Regions from separate parts of the Homo sapiens genome. Here region 2 is linked to region 1. Evidence: fine-mapped QTL for protein levels in blood plasma. A gene starts in region 1. The other region holds a variant in brackets. All regions are shown on one strand. Distances are from middle to middle. Region 1 holds the start of VCAN (versican). Region 2 overlaps VCAN (versican).

Evidence for each region. PIP is the chance, under the fine-mapping model, that this variant and not a neighbour inherited with it causes the effect. The UK Biobank Pharma Proteomics Project read protein levels with antibody pairs (Olink). The fine-mapping took linkage between variants from a reference panel, not from the people measured, so its PIPs are less certain.
Region 2: its variant is fine-mapped to the plasma level of the VCAN protein (UK Biobank, PIP 0.97). The variant lies in the coding sequence of VCAN. If it changes the protein, the assay may bind it differently, which can mimic a change of level.

Annotation. Positions count from the first base shown.
Region 1 is chr5:83,467,143-83,475,142 of GRCh38, forward strand. It overlaps VCAN (versican), which reads left to right and starts at 4,602. Exons shown (of 15, transcript NM_004385.5): 1 at 4,602-4,881. RefSeq lists an enhancer at 5,031-5,903 and silencers at 7,336-7,425, 7,456-7,675.
Region 2 is chr5:83,537,205-83,540,543 of GRCh38, forward strand. It overlaps VCAN (versican), which reads left to right. Exons shown (of 15, transcript NM_004385.5): 8 at 1-3,339. The region is part of intron 1 of VCAN-AS1 (VCAN antisense RNA 1); the gene reads right to left. Among named protein-coding and RNA genes, the nearest start is that of VCAN-AS1, 23 kb to the right of the region's middle. The variant A/G (reference allele first, on the strand shown) is at 346.

The sequences.
Region 1 (8,000 bases):
ATATTTTAATAGGAGCAAGCATTAGTCCTGCAATTCTTTTTGTCAATAGAATAAAAATGGAATGTATGCTTGCTGCTTCTACATGCCGGTTGATACCCATGCTGAACACTTTTCTTACAACACAGAGGTTTCCTTGTTTTCTGTCTTGCGTTCTACCTTTGCTCACCACAGAGACATTAATGATGCCATGTGTCTTTTTGCACCATCAGTGCAGCAGCTTTCATTATGCTCCTTGTCTCGGTCCCACTGTAGTCTAATTAAATAAATGGAAACGGGTAGTCACTGAAAATAAACAGCAACTGCAAAAGTTTTGCCTCTTAAGAAACCTTCTGCATTGTATTCCGCCCTGCCTCATTGATTCTAAGATCTCTACCGCTTCCTTGTGTTCAGAAACCAGACTCTTCAGTTTGTCTTGCTTCAGTCAGACAAATGCTTTATAAAAATGACCTATATTTTTCAGACTGTGGGGAGAGAAGAAAAAGACTTTGAGAAAGTGACTAAGGAGGGAGTAAGAGTGATACAATCTTTGATTCAATTTAGTTGGACTGTGTTCTTTATGCCTTCATCTTTTTCTTTATAAAAAAGATAGCGTTTTTGATGCTCTGCTCCAGGCAGCCTCCCAGGGTGAGTGCAGATGTGCTGAGCCATTTGGCTGCCTTGAGGACCGGCTCAGAGAGCCTCTCTTCTCACTAATGAAGTCATCTCCTCTCGGCAGCCCGGCCTCTCCCATCACTCCATGTTGGAACTTGGCTTTGGCTTGCATAGTTCTGTCGTGATGTAGATGGTCTTTCAGTTAAGTTCTAGAGAAATCTGCTCAACCATGAACAGGACATTTACAGCACAGGAGAAAAAAAAATTTATTAAAACAAATATTTTACTGTAACATTTTGATTTGGGGGTTGGAGAGCAAAAACTCAATATCTGATGTCTGGGAAAAATCTAATGTTTTATGGCTTTCTAAGGAAATTTGTCTGTGTTTAATTTATCAGAGCAATTTATATACTTCGGGTTAAAGCACAATGAGATTGCCACCATCACTTTGCCTTTTGCAAGATTTCTTTTTTAAGAATAAAAAGAAGGCAATAAAGACCTTGTATTTCTGCCTTTCCTAGAAAGCCAAAGAGAATTCAAAGTGCTGGATGAAATGTCTGTCCCTAATTTGCAGTGTTTTATTTAAAAAAAAAATTATGACACAATCTTAGAGGATAGGCTTCCTTTTTCCAGGGTCTTTGAAAGTTAAAAGTACATTTTTAATCTGTAGCATTACTGTATCATCCAGTGAGGATAATTTGCTTAGTTGTGCCTAGGACCAGTCAGATCAAGGAGTTGAAACTAAGCTCTTTCTGAATTTGAATGGGACTGGAATCTTGTCATCCCTAGAGCAGCAATAGATGATGCCATGTCTAAGAACACTTCACCTGATCAATAAAAAAGGAGAAGTCTGAAATGTAATCCTAAAGAACCTCAGAAGGAGGTTTAGATGAAGATAATAAAATTCCCTGGAGACACATCTGCCATCTACACCTTTCCTCTCCAAGTCATTGGCTTGCTGCCCCTGAGCTCAGCCAAATTCCCAAAGACAAGATCAAAGCAAGGAAGCAAGGCACATAGCTTCTGGCTTATGGTTTCTTTTAGACACAAGCATTGTGAATGAAGATCTTGCTTTATTTATACCTGGGATCTTGGAGTTTTCACAAAGAATATCCCCAGTACAAGGATGTGATTTAAAGGGGGACTCACAGAATAATATTTTAATTACTGTTTGATTCATACTTGAGTGTAATGGACAAATAAATACAATTTTAGTTATAAAACCTGAAAAATATATATTTTCCCATTCAAAAACTTCTGATAGTTTTGTCAGGCATTGGAGAATCAGAAATAAATGCTCTCTCATTTTCTTTCTCTTGATGAAGGAAAGTCATTAAAAACAGTTACATAGAAATAATAATACAACTGTAGACTCTATTCTAAATATAGCTGGTATGTTTTCCTTTTTCTTTTTTATCCATTCTCCATTTTAGACAGCTAGAGGGGAAAGTCTGCCCTAGAGATAGAAAGAAGATATCCATGGGGTATAATTTCATTTTAGTTATCTGATAGCCTGAAGAAGTATTTAATTTTCTGAATAATAATGTTACAAGTCAAAGAAGAGAAAAGACAGGCAGTTTAAAGCTTTTCAACATTGTGCATATTCTAATTCCTTAAGTCAGCCCTGAGAAAGTGCCTTTGTCCTGTAGAAGTATTTGGTCAAGTGTTGTGAAGTCTATTGGCATTAAAAGAAACTAAAAATTTTGGAGGATTAGAGAATCAAATTTGGCAACATAAATGAAAACATCTCAGAATGTAAAAAGTATCTAACCCATCACTTTCAATCATGTTCCATTATATACAGATGGCATTATTTATAGTGAATGTTAACTATTAACATTTCCCTAAAAATGGGCATTAATCTGCTATTAGTTGCTTGTTTCTGATCTAGTTCTCCTTTGTTGAAAGGTTTTACTTAACTGTATCATAAAGGGACAAAAGGGTAAAAGATAATAAGCTTTTCAGACTGGCAGATCTGTCACTTACAAAATGGCCTTGGGCAGGTTACTTGAACTCTTTGAAACTCAACTAGATTTACTCAAATTTAAGAATGAGAATACAAATCCACATCTTGAAGTGTTTCACAGAAAGGTCTATCTTAATGTCTGGAGTATATATTTCAATGAACATTCATTTTATTTTATTTCTCTCCATTCCTGAATCAAGCAATCTTGAATCTAAAGTTGCTATGATTAGCACTGAAAAGACCACTGGACTATTAATTGTGTGACTTTGGGACAGTAACTTTCTGCACCTTAGTTTGTTTACATGTTATACATGAAGGTTGAAGTCTGATTCTGCTCTGTGACTATCATTCTAAACATCTGATGAAATCAAATTTCAGTGTTTGGAATGGTAGTACAATAAATTTACTAAGAATAAATAATTCACTGCAAAAACACATTGATTTCCAAATGATGTAACTGACAGTTATATTACTGCAGAGGGCTGATAAATAACAAAAGAAATGAAAGATGCACATGGTGAGAACTGAAATTATCCTGACAAGTCTTCTACCTGTTTATCACTTAAAATCAATGACCATGCTGAATGCCTACAAATTACAAAATATAAAAGAAATCTTATAAATGCGCATGTACAGGAGTCTAAGTTACTAAAAGTTTTAAAGCATAAGTTTAAACCAAACTAATCAAAGAAGTTGAGAGGAAAAATTGGCTTTCATCTTTAATCACTACTGTTTTGAGGTCCTATGTTTAATATAATTTTCTAAGTAGAGGCTTCAGAGAGAAGAGTTGTGAGGATACTTTCATATTTGTGTAGAAGGAAAAGTTTGCCATCCATTCTAGTATCCCTAGTGTTATACTGATGTGCACCTTGGATTTATTTTGTTCCTATTGTATAAACTCATACTTGACTTCAAAGAAAAGGAAAATCCAAAGTCCCTCTTTTCTAAGGGGACAGAAATCCTTTGTGTCAACTGTTTGACCCTTTTCTCTGTAAGGTCCTATTGGAAATCTTTTGTAACACAATGCAGGGGACTCTTCCATGTGTTGATGCTGTTTACACAGTGGGGTGGGCCTGACTGAAGAAAAAAAATCGCATATACGCATGAAAGATTATGGTCTTATTTCCGGAAAGCATGAAAGGTGATTGATACTTCCAAGAAGTCCCTGTTACTCAGGAAAATTATCAAATATTCTACTCAGAGATACTTGGAAAGACTGAAGGAAAGGAAGAACGAAGAAAGCAGAATCTAGACTTATGTGGGGAGAGATTTGTGGCAGAGGAAAAGTATTCTCTTTGAATCCGACAAGGGATTTGCCTGGGGGAATTTCCTGTCCAGCCTTTTATTACCAGGGTCTTTTGAAGCCGGGCTCCCCATTGGGCAGTTCCCTGGGAGTGCAGTGGGGAATTCTTACACTTTCCCTCTAGGTCCCCGAAGGATCTCGTTTTCTCAGTGTCTCTTTCAGGTTGGCAGGAGCCTTGAGCCTGACACTTCCCTTTGATGGGACAGGCAAGCTCTGTGGGCGCGTAAACACGCTGTAACCAAGTTCTTTGCTGATTTTACAGTTTTGTGTGCTCCCGAGAAGAAGTGATCGTACTCAATTGTCTATTGCTGGCCTGCCCCCTAAGAGCCTGGGGGCTCCTTTCCCCTAACCCAGAACTAGCTGCACGGGGGGCGGGGAAATGGGGGTGGGGAAGGAGTGGGAGGGCAGTGGTTTCCGCGAGCAGAGCGATGTTACTGAGTGAGTCCCTGAATGGGGAGCGCTGCTGTCCCCAAGCCGATTGGTACTTCTTGTCAGGAAGAAACGCCAAGAGGTGGGAGTGCCTGGGGAGGGAGGCAGGCGGTCCCTACCGCAGGCGCGGGGAGCTGCCTTTCCGCCCCTCCGCCTGCTTTCCAAGCCTGGACTCTTAGGAGTGGCTGAAGCTGCGGAGCGCTTTTGGAGCCTGTGAATGAACCCTCCTCCTCTCCCTCCTCCTTCTTCTCGCTGAGTCTCCTCCTCGGCTCTGACGGTACAGTGATATAATGATGATGGGTGTCACAACCCGCATTTGAACTTGCAGGCGAGCTGCCCCGAGCCTTTCTGGGGAAGAACTCCAGGCGTGCGGACGCAACAGCCGAGAACATTAGGTGTTGTGGACAGGAGCTGGGACCAAGATCTTCGGCCAGCCCCGCATCCTCCCGCATCTTCCAGCACCGTCCCGCACCCTCCGCATCCTTCCCCGGGCCACCACGCTTCCTATGTGACCCGCCTGGGCAACGCCGAACCCAGTCGCGCAGCGCTGCAGTGAATTTTCCCCCCAAACTGCAATAAGCCGCCTTCCAAGGTAATCACGTTTCTTTTGTTCCCCCCTTAAAAAACAAAAACAAAAAACTTATAGAAAAAAACCCGCGAGCTTAGAAAAAAGAAGCAATTGGTAGAAGGCTTTAATTAAGGCAAAGAGCTGTAAGGCGAAGTTAAGAAAATGTAGGCACTTAAAAAATGCAGGTAACTTTCATAAGGGCTTTTGGGGAGAGGCATACAGAGGGACCTTGGTGTTGAAAAAGATTCAGACAAAAGAAACCCAGGGTGGGGTGGGGGGTAAAATGACTAACGGAATTGGGGGAAGGGAGGGAATAAATTGTAAAGAAATCATAGAAAAGTGGTGGGTTCTTGAGCTGGAGAGAAGAGAGGGACCTTTGGCACTTTGATTTTTTTGTTGTTGTTGTTCTTAACACGCTCGAGGCAAAAGTTTGAATGGGGACTACCAAGACTTGCCACAGACAAGTCCCCGAAGCCGCCTTGGTGCAGGCCACCTGGTTTCCCAGCCCCTGGTGTGTGGTCAGTGCCTGGTGTTCCTGGAAAGCCACTCCCGGGCAGCTCCTGACAGTGCGACCCGGCGCCCAAGCAGCCTGGGACCTTGCGCGGACCTGACCCCTTCAGACCGCAGGCAGTCTGGGAGGAGGTCCGGCCGGGGGAGGTGCAGGATCCCCGCCGTGTCTCTTTGACGACTTGGGGACTGTCACGGTTCTCTCCCGGCGCCCCTGGGTTCTTTTGTCCTGCACGCGGTGCGAAGGGGCCAGCAGGGAAGGAGCAGAGGATGGGGGGTGGGGTTGTTGGAGCCCCGCGGAGGTCTGGGAGGCCCCTGGGCGGGAAAAGCCTGTTCTGAATCGGCAGGGATGTGCAACAATTTTTCTCACCCTGAAGAGTGAAATAGGGTCTGTCGCTCCCATCTCAACAAGCAAACCGGCACCCAGAGCGCACTGCAGACAAAGGTGGCTCGGGGACCCGAATCAGGGGCCTCTGGGTCAGTCCTCTCGCCCAGACTACAGGAGTCCTCCGTTTCCTTACATATTCCCCACCCTCTCCTAGTTCTCCGCTCTAGTTGAGCAACTTTACTGGCAGGTCTAGCGGCAGCGGCGCGCGCGTGTGCCGGGAGCCCCGGGGGACGTCCTCGGCTGGAGCGCCCCACCGTCCTGCAGAGGCGTGGGCGCTGTAGGGCGACATCCCTGGTGCGTGCAGACCTAGGGCATCCGGGTTGTTCTGGCCCGCGGTCTGTGTCACTGGGCGTGGAGCGGTCTGGGTGTTAGGCAGAGGAGAGCGGGGTAGAAAAATAGTGTCATAGCCTAAACTATTTGCTCTCCAATCCAACTGCGTCTCGGCAAGTCCTGCATGTCCCTGGGAGATGCTGCGGGAAGGGGGAGAAATCTACACGGCGCCTGGAGAGTTGTCCTGCCGCGCGCACACCCGCGGCAGAGTCTCTCTGGGTCGCGTTCCTCATCTTTGTGTCTCCCTCTGTCTCCATCTTCTCTGCCTCCCTTCCCCTCTCCCAGCCTCTGTTCTCTCTCTCTAGCTTCTGCGTCCCCTCCCCCACAGCTGACAAATGAATGGCTAGTGTGAAATCCCTGCCTTTCCCGTGCTCCAAGGCAGCAGGGAGGGAGGAGCGAGGGAGGCGGTGCGCTCCTTCGGATCTGCCCCCAGTTCAGCTCACAAGACTTGCAGAACCTAGATGTCTAGGAATTGGGAGTTTTGCGGCGGGTGTGGGCGCCCCCTGATGGAGAAGTCCCGCACAGGCGGAGAAAAACAAGCCCCCCAGACCAAGCGAGCATCTTTCACAACCTTGTGTTCAAGGATGGAAGGCCCTAGTTTTCCCTTAAGTCATTCATTTTGCACTCCACAATCTGCGGCGTACATCTAGGAGTTTGGAGGACCCTGAAAAAAGGTCTTGGTCTGTGCAAAGTGCAGAGATGCCTTCTCGCGAGTCGGCTGGAACGCACGCGGCGCCCTGGGTCCAGTTCGCCGCTTAGTGGACGAACGCACATGGCCAGGGTGGAGCCAGGTTTCGGAGGTCTAGACGCGCCACCCTGGGCGTCTTTAAGAAAGATAATACACATACCGTGCTCTCAAAACCCATGACCACTTGAACCCAACGCTAGGGCCCCGCCCCAGGATATTGCAAAAGAAGGGCTCCTAATCCAAAACTTAAACTTCCTCAACTTCAGGGCGGGCGTCGGACGGGAAAGTGGAGAGAAGGCGGGCAGTGGGAGGAAAAAAGAAAGGGAAGGAAGGGAAGTGGAAGGAAAGAGGACCGTGGAGGGGAGGAAAAGGAGAAAGGAACGGAGATGGGGCAGATGGCATTCAAACAGCCAGGAACGGACCGGAAGGGTTCGTTTCGGGGTTTGGGTCTGAATTTCGAGACTCGTTTTAGGATACTCTTTTCCCTTTCCCAGCGGCAACAAATGTGACTGCAGAGGCGTGCCGGGATGGAAGGGTGGGAAAGAACTAGACAAGCGGAGGTGGTCCAGCCCCGCCCAAAGGGGCTGGGTCTGGGGCCCGCCCCCACTCGCTCACCTCGCGCCAAGGGAGGACCCGCAACGGGCGCTCCCCGCAGCGGCTGGGTTAGCCAGCCGCCACGTGGGTTGGCGCTTCGGCTCCCAGCCGAGACGGGTGTGACTTCCTGGGCTCAGAGACTGCAGTACAGCCGCACAGGCGGCCGGCGCAGCCGAGGCCCCCACCCACCGAGGCCAATGGGGGCGGGGCGGGGAAGGCAGGGCCCAGCTTAACCGAGAGAGCCGAGTGGCCTCGCCCCCAGGATTCGGGGCCGGCTGCTTCTGGAGCTGACCCGAGTTCCATCCAGACAGCGCTGAACACTCTTATTAAAAGGCTATTTAAGTTTTATTTTATTTTATTTTATTTTTGCTTGCTTCTTGGGAGTGGTAGGAGGGGCATCGTGCTTTTGTTTTGAGGCAGGGGAGAGGTTAAAATTTACTCCAAGCAAACTTTTTGTCAGAAAAATGAGACTTTATACCGTATTCCATTTGTTGACTTTTTAAATACATTCAGGTCACTCTAAAGCCCATTCTTAGTCAATTAACAGATTAATTTCGTTCCAGACTGTCATAAAGAGTTCGCCTGGAATGGCAAATACTGCCATTCGACAAGACTAATAGAATTTCATGGGGGCAA
Region 2 (3,339 bases), 68 kb after region 1:
ATGTGACAACCACCCCATCTGTGCAGTACATAAATGGGAAGCATCTCGTTACCACTGTGCCCAAGGACCCAGAAGCTGCAGAAGCTAGGCGTGGCCAGTTTGAAAGTGTTGCACCTTCTCAGAATTTCTCGGACAGCTCTGAAAGTGATACTCATCCATTTGTAATAGCCAAAACGGAATTGTCTACTGCTGTGCAACCTAATGAATCTACAGAAACAACTGAGTCTCTTGAAGTTACATGGAAGCCTGAGACTTACCCTGAAACATCAGAACATTTTTCAGGTGGTGAGCCTGATGTTTTCCCCACAGTCCCATTCCATGAGGAATTTGAAAGTGGAACAGCCA[A/G]AAAAGGGGCAGAATCAGTCACAGAGAGAGATACTGAAGTTGGTCATCAGGCACATGAACATACTGAACCTGTATCTCTGTTTCCTGAAGAGTCTTCAGGAGAGATTGCCATTGACCAAGAATCTCAGAAAATAGCCTTTGCAAGGGCTACAGAAGTAACATTTGGTGAAGAGGTAGAAAAAAGTACTTCTGTCACATACACTCCCACTATAGTTCCAAGTTCTGCATCAGCATATGTTTCAGAGGAAGAAGCAGTTACCCTAATAGGAAATCCTTGGCCAGATGACCTGTTGTCTACCAAAGAAAGCTGGGTAGAAGCAACTCCTAGACAAGTTGTAGAGCTCTCAGGGAGTTCTTCGATTCCAATTACAGAAGGCTCTGGAGAAGCAGAAGAAGATGAAGATACAATGTTCACCATGGTAACTGATTTATCACAGAGAAATACTACTGATACACTCATTACTTTAGACACTAGCAGGATAATCACAGAAAGCTTTTTTGAGGTTCCTGCAACCACCATTTATCCAGTTTCTGAACAACCTTCTGCAAAAGTGGTGCCTACCAAGTTTGTAAGTGAAACAGACACTTCTGAGTGGATTTCCAGTACCACTGTTGAGGAAAAGAAAAGGAAGGAGGAGGAGGGAACTACAGGTACGGCTTCTACATTTGAGGTATATTCATCTACACAGAGATCGGATCAATTAATTTTACCCTTTGAATTAGAAAGTCCAAATGTAGCTACATCTAGTGATTCAGGTACCAGGAAAAGTTTTATGTCCTTGACAACACCAACACAGTCTGAAAGGGAAATGACAGATTCTACTCCTGTCTTTACAGAAACAAATACATTAGAAAATTTGGGGGCACAGACCACTGAGCACAGCAGTATCCATCAACCTGGGGTTCAGGAAGGGCTGACCACTCTCCCACGTAGTCCTGCCTCTGTCTTTATGGAGCAGGGCTCTGGAGAAGCTGCTGCCGACCCAGAAACCACCACTGTTTCTTCATTTTCATTAAACGTAGAGTATGCAATTCAAGCCGAAAAGGAAGTAGCTGGCACTTTGTCTCCGCATGTGGAAACTACATTCTCCACTGAGCCAACAGGACTGGTTTTGAGTACAGTAATGGACAGAGTAGTTGCTGAAAATATAACCCAAACATCCAGGGAAATAGTGATTTCAGAGCGATTAGGAGAACCAAATTATGGGGCAGAAATAAGGGGCTTTTCCACAGGTTTTCCTTTGGAGGAAGATTTCAGTGGTGACTTTAGAGAATACTCAACAGTGTCTCATCCCATAGCAAAAGAAGAAACGGTAATGATGGAAGGCTCTGGAGATGCAGCATTTAGGGACACCCAGACTTCACCATCTACAGTACCTACTTCAGTTCACATCAGTCACATATCTGACTCAGAAGGACCCAGTAGCACCATGGTCAGCACTTCAGCCTTCCCCTGGGAAGAGTTTACATCCTCAGCTGAGGGCTCAGGTGAGCAACTGGTCACAGTCAGCAGCTCTGTTGTTCCAGTGCTTCCCAGTGCTGTGCAAAAGTTTTCTGGTACAGCTTCCTCCATTATCGACGAAGGATTGGGAGAAGTGGGTACTGTCAATGAAATTGATAGAAGATCCACCATTTTACCAACAGCAGAAGTGGAAGGTACGAAAGCTCCAGTAGAGAAGGAGGAAGTAAAGGTCAGTGGCACAGTTTCAACAAACTTTCCCCAAACTATAGAGCCAGCCAAATTATGGTCTAGGCAAGAAGTCAACCCTGTAAGACAAGAAATTGAAAGTGAAACAACATCAGAGGAACAAATTCAAGAAGAAAAGTCATTTGAATCCCCTCAAAACTCTCCTGCAACAGAACAAACAATCTTTGATTCACAGACATTTACTGAAACTGAACTCAAAACCACAGATTATTCTGTACTAACAACAAAGAAAACTTACAGTGATGATAAAGAAATGAAGGAGGAAGACACTTCTTTAGTTAACATGTCTACTCCAGATCCAGATGCAAATGGCTTGGAATCTTACACAACTCTCCCTGAAGCTACTGAAAAGTCACATTTTTTCTTAGCTACTGCATTAGTAACTGAATCTATACCAGCTGAACATGTAGTCACAGATTCACCAATCAAAAAGGAAGAAAGTACAAAACATTTTCCGAAAGGCATGAGACCAACAATTCAAGAGTCAGATACTGAGCTCTTATTCTCTGGACTGGGATCAGGAGAAGAAGTTTTACCTACTCTACCAACAGAGTCAGTGAATTTTACTGAAGTGGAACAAATCAATAACACATTATATCCCCACACTTCTCAAGTGGAAAGTACCTCAAGTGACAAAATTGAAGACTTTAACAGAATGGAAAATGTGGCAAAAGAAGTTGGACCACTCGTATCTCAAACAGACATCTTTGAAGGTAGTGGGTCAGTAACCAGCACAACATTAATAGAAATTTTAAGTGACACTGGAGCAGAAGGACCCACGGTGGCACCTCTCCCTTTCTCCACGGACATCGGACATCCTCAAAATCAGACTGTCAGGTGGGCAGAAGAAATCCAGACTAGTAGACCACAAACCATAACTGAACAAGACTCTAACAAGAATTCTTCAACAGCAGAAATTAACGAAACAACAACCTCATCTACTGATTTTCTGGCTAGAGCTTATGGTTTTGAAATGGCCAAAGAATTTGTTACATCAGCACCAAAACCATCTGACTTGTATTATGAACCTTCTGGAGAAGGATCTGGAGAAGTGGATATTGTTGATTCATTTCACACTTCTGCAACTACTCAGGCAACCAGACAAGAAAGCAGCACCACATTTGTTTCTGATGGGTCCCTGGAAAAACATCCTGAGGTGCCAAGCGCTAAAGCTGTTACTGCTGATGGATTCCCAACAGTTTCAGTGATGCTGCCTCTTCATTCAGAGCAGAACAAAAGCTCCCCTGATCCAACTAGCACACTGTCAAATACAGTGTCATATGAGA